2 separate regions of the Homo sapiens genome follow, and region 2 is linked to region 1. A link means that fine-mapping ties the variant in region 1 to the expression of a gene that starts in the linked region. Tissue or cell type: whole blood. Region 1 holds a variant in brackets; the other region holds the start of a gene. All regions are shown on one strand. Distances are between the middles of the regions.

Region 1 (2,763 bases):
TGGTAGTACTGAACATCTTCTCACCTGGACTCATGAGCAACTTGAATAGTTGTAACTGTGATGCATATGTAGATTCTAACACATTTTTCCCCCTTGAATAGAAATTTGGCACAACAATTTTTTAAATTAATTTAGCAAATATTTGGATATTAAAGCTTCTTATAGAAAGAGATACCTGTATATTTAAGCCATGATGAGGTATATACAATGTTATAATTATTACTTGTACATGGCAAATTAATTTTTTTATCATTGTGGAGTCACTTTCTTTAAATTTAGTAATGCCTTTGGCTTTAATTTTTCTCCTGATATTAAAATAGATACAGTAACTTTCATTATGTTAGTGCTGTAAAATTTTTTTTTCCATCTTCTATTTTTGACCATTTTTATTCCACATGTGCTCTTAATAAGTAGCATATAGTTAAATTTTAAAAAATCCAATATGGCAATCACCTTTTAGGTTAAAAATTTAATCCATTTACATTTGTGACAATTCGACATATATATGGTTCTAAATCTATCATCTTACTAGGTGGTTTCCATTTCCTCTGCTCCAAAATATTTTTTTTACAGCTTATAACACAACTTTTATTAGAAAAGTTATACATAACACAGCATCAACTATTTTCAAGAACCCAATAAGCAACAAAAACCAGACTAACAAAATGTGTAACAAGAAACTAATGACCTTTCTAAAATCAAACATTCAATTATCTACAATGTCTATTTACAAACAGGGAAAACTCCATGGTTTACAGGCATGTCATATTGAAAATAAAGCTGCAATAGCTTTTTATACAATTATCGCTCTCAAGAAAATGAATCATTAAGACAGTAATTAGGAGTTCACAAATTTAAAACATTTCACGTAATTTTAAATTATTGTCTTCAATAATTTTAAATTATTGAAGTCTGAGTTTCAAAAGTGATTTTTTTCCCACAAAGGTGCCAACACTTAAGCTAGAGCTTTCAGTGTTAACTTTGCCCTAAAAGTTAAGACATATTCTGAGAATCATAATAGTCACATGATTTCTGATGCTATCTGCTCTGTTAATAACAAAGATTTCACACATGAATACCTATGTAACAAATCTCCATGTTCTACACATATACCCCAGAACTTAAAGTATAATAATAATAAAACATAGCAAAGCCTTTATCTGGATGTGTTTTTCTTTAATTAAATTATAGGAAGCTGGATATAGGATTTTGTTGCAAATCTGTTAAAGTTCCAAACACAGGAGTGTGCAGCACTGGAAAAGGAGATCAGTACTAAAACTTAAAATAAATATCAGAGAAACCATTAGC[T/G]TTTACAGCATTGTCTGTTTAAAGGTTAAGTTGACCAGGTGTATAATTTCCCATCAGTCTCTTCTTACAGTAGGCAGGGCAATTTCTATTTTCATGATCTGAATACTCAAATATATCCAAACATCTTTTTAAAGCTTTGATTTATAGCTCCTAGAAAGTTATAATTTTTAATAGTCACTCTACTCTAATGAAGCCTATTTCTGCTCATCACACTTATCACTGCTTTGAATGTGTCCCAGAGATTCCGGTATGTTGTGTCTTTGTTCTCATTGGTTTCAAAGAACATCTTTATTTCTGCCTTCATTTCATTTTGTACCCAGTATTCATTCAGGAGCAGGTTGTTCAGTTTCCATGTAGTTGAGCGGTTTTGAGTGAGTTTCTTAACCCTGAGTTCTAGTTTGATTGCACTGTGGTCTGAGAGACAGTTTGTTATAATTTCTGTTATTTTACATTTGCTGAGGAGAGCTTTACTTCCAACTATGTGGTCAATTTTGGAATAGGTGTGGTGTGGTGCTGAAAAAAATGTATATTCTGTTGATTTGGGGTGGAGAGTTCTGTAGATGTCTATTAGGTCTGCTTGGCGCAGAGCTGAGTTCAATTCCTGGATATCCTTGTTAACTTTCTGTCTCGTTGATCTGTCTAATGTTGACAGTTGGGTGTTAAAGTCTCCCATTATTATTATGTGGGAGTCTAAGTCTCTTTGTAGGTCTCTAAGGACTTGCTTTATGAATCTGGGTGCTCCTGTATTGGGTGCATATATATTTAGGATACTTAGCTCTTCTTGTTGAACTGATCCCTTTGCCACTATGCGATGGCCTTCTTTGTCTCTTTTAATCTTTGTTGGTTTTAAGTCTGTTTCATCAGAGACTAGGATTGCAACCCCTGCTTTTTTTTTTTTTTTTTGCTTTCCTTTTGTCTGGTAGATCTTCCTCCATCCCCTTATTTTGAGCCAATATGTGTCTCTGCACATGAGATGGGTCTCCTGAATAGAGCACACTGATGGGTCTTGACTCTATATACAATTTGCCAGTCTGTGTGTTTTAACAGGGGAATTTAGCCCATTTACATTTAAGGTTAATATTGTTAATGTGTGAATTTGATCCTGTCATTATGATGTTAGATGGTTATTTTGCCCGTTAGTTGATGAAGTTTCTTCCTAGCCTTGATGGTCTTTACAATTTGTCATGTTTTTGCGGTGCCTGGTACTGGTTGTTCCTTTCCATGTTTAGTGCTTCCTTCAGGTGCTCTAATAAGGCAGGCCTGGTGGTGACAAAATCTCTCAGCATTTGTTTGTCTGTAAAGGATTTTATTTCTCCTTCACTTATGAAGTTTAGTTTGGCTGGATTTGAAATTCTGGGTTGAAAATTGTTTTCTGTAAGAATTTTGAATATGGGCCCCCACTCTCTTCTAGCTTATTGGGTTTCTGCTGAGATCCACTGTTAGTCTGATGGGCTT
Region 2 (2,763 bases), 24 kb before region 1:
ACTTTGGGGACTTGGGGGGAAGAGTGGGAGGGGGATGAGGGATAAAATATTACAAATATGGTGCAGGGTATGCTGCTTGGGTGATGGGTGCACAAAAATCTCACAAATCACCACTAAAAACCTTACTCATGTAACCAAATACCACCTGTACCTCAATAACTTATGGAAAAATAAAAATTAAAAAAAGAATGAATCAGGAGAGGGAGTGAATTAAAAAGTTACTCATCAGTAAATTATCATTGGTTTACAGAAACCACATTGATTAGTAATTAGCTGTATACTGTTAAATTTTAGGGTTCAGTTAGTCTAGAACCTACATAGCAAATGGCTTCAAGAGGTAAATTTCGTGCAAGGTGGCAGTGAGGCATGACTCCTGTCATATCTCTCTCATGAGTCCACTCTGGACTTGATAGTTTCAAGGCACTCACATTCCTCAAATAACAGTTTTTTTTTTTTTTCGTTCTCAGCACTCCATAGATTTATGGCTGTTTGTTAACATACTATTTAAGCAAGGCCTGTAAGCCACTGCCATGAAAGAGATAAATACATTTGAACTGAGTTCTCTCCTGAGTGATGGGTATAACACACATTGATAAACTGCTGCTTTTTCTCTTGTTTCTCTGCCTTTTGTTTTCAGGACAGTGTCTCTACTAAGAATCTATGAGGACAAGAAAACATCATATATTTTCTGTGCTACAATATAAAATTCATGAAGCCTGTTTCTGATTTTATATCACTTCAGGCTCCCTTTTGCCTAATCAGGGAGATTACAAAATATCACTGACATCTGCCCAATATTAGTCTGGATGCAGTAAGAATGTTTCATCACCTTTGCAGACTGATTTCAGAATGTTTCATTTTGCAGTCACATTCCTTAACAATGTTCATGGGTTTTGTTATTTACTATGTTACCCTTCATATCTAAACCATATCCATCCAATCAAACTTTTGCTTACTACCTAGGACACTGTTCAACACATGGATTAAGGCTTGCATAAAATAAGCAGCCAATGTAAAGGTTAGTTAGGGAGCACTTAATTTAACCAAGTTCTCTAAATAGATGTCTTTTAGGAGATAAAAAATTTTCTATTTTGCATGCCAGAATGAATAGGAATCAGACAGAGAAATTTTATGTTAGAAACTGAAGAAATGATCTAAGTATTCTTGTCAAAGTTCTCATGAATGGTTTTCAATGTTTCTCAATTCCTCTTTTGTTTTTTTTAACCCCACGTATCGAAATCACTGGAAACTTTAGTTGTAATTGTGACTTCTTCTTTTGAGGTACACTTAATGTTGGAAGTCTCTTAGTCCTATAAGAGTGTGTAGCAGTTTGTCCCTGAGCTCTAGCTTCTTTAAATGAAGCTGAGTCTCTGGGCAACATCTTTAGGGAGAGAGGTACAAAAGGTTCCTGGACCTTCTCAACACAGGGAGCCTGCATAATGATGCAAGAGCAGCAACCTCAAAGTACAGGTGAGTATTTCCTCAGTTTCAGAGGAAAGTGGAAGTGTATGGTGAAATGAGATCACCTGGAGAGAAGAAGTAGCCAAAGAACAGATTGAAGAGCTAGTGATTGGACCAATATAGTAGACTCAAAGGAATTTGAAAGAAAGAGTAATTCTTCAGAGCCAGAGCCATAAGCACTTGAAAGAATAAGAAAGCAAATATTTTTTGGGAGGTTTGTACCAGATTTTATTGATAGTTTAGGGAGACAGAAAAGATTTACATGATAGAAGGTAAACAGGGAAATAACTGATTATTGGATGTCTGCTCTTCAAAGTCTTTTGACTAATTTTGAAATCCAGGAAGCAGTACTCTTTCCAATTACCCTAAGTTTTTTTGTACTTGCTTTTCTAATTTTTTTGTAAGAGAAAAGCTTCCCATTTTTAATGCATGAAAATTTGACTTTAGCTTCAACCCTTTGCATGTCCATCAATAATGTTTTAAAAAAATTTTTATTAAAATTTTTTATGGATACAAAATAGTTGTGCATGTTTATGGGCTCCATGTCATATTTTGACACAAGAATATGATGCGTAATGGTAAAGTCTGGAAAATTACATTATCCATCACCTCAAATATTTATCATGTCTTTGTGTTTGGAACATTCCAAATCTACTCTTCTAGCTATTTTGACATATGCAATAAATTATTGTTGGGTTAGGCTCAGTGGCTCACACCTGTAATCTCAGCACTTTGGGAGGCTGAGGTGGGTGGATCACTTGAGGTCAGGAGTTAGAGACCAGCCTGGCCAACATGGTGAAATCCCGTCTCTAATAAAAAGACAAAACTTAGCTGGGCATGGTGGCATGCACCTGTAATCCTAGCCACTCAGGAGGCTGAGGCAGGAGAATCACTTGAACCCAGGAGGTGGAGGTTGCAGGGTGCCAAGATTGCCTCATTGTGCTTCAGCCTGGGTGACAGAGTGAGACTCCATGTCAAAAAAAAAAAAAAGTTAACTACAGTTATCCTGCTGTGCTAAGGGACACTAGATTTTATTTCTTCTAGCTAATTGTATTTTTGTAGGTACGAAACAACCCTTCTCTATCTTCTCTTCCCAGTTAACCTTCCTGGCCTCTGGTAACCACCATTCTATTCACTACCTCCATGAGATCAATTTTTTTAACTCCCACATATGAGTCAGAATATGCAATGTTTGTCTTTCTGTGCCTGGCTCATTTCACTTAACACGATGTCCTCTGGTTCCATCTGTGCTGTTGCAAATGGCAGGATTTTATTCTTTTTTATGGTGGAATAATATGCCAT

Evidence for each region. PIP is the estimated chance that this variant, and not a neighbour inherited with it, causes the effect. A credible set is the group of variants that fine-mapping cannot tell apart.
Region 2: CLEC6A starts here. The variant in region 1 is the best candidate, but not a certain one, in a credible set for the expression of CLEC6A in whole blood (INTERVAL, PIP 0.86).

The regions. Positions count from the first base shown.
Region 1 is chr12:8,478,622-8,481,384 of GRCh38, forward strand. No RefSeq gene overlaps it. Among named protein-coding and RNA genes, the nearest start is that of CLEC6A, 24 kb to the left of the region's middle. The variant T/G (reference allele first, on the strand shown) is at 1,309.
Region 2 is chr12:8,454,673-8,457,435 of GRCh38, forward strand. It overlaps CLEC6A (C-type lectin domain containing 6A), which reads left to right and starts at 1,290. Exons shown (of 6, transcript NM_001007033.2): 1 at 1,290-1,470. The coding sequence starts at 1,440.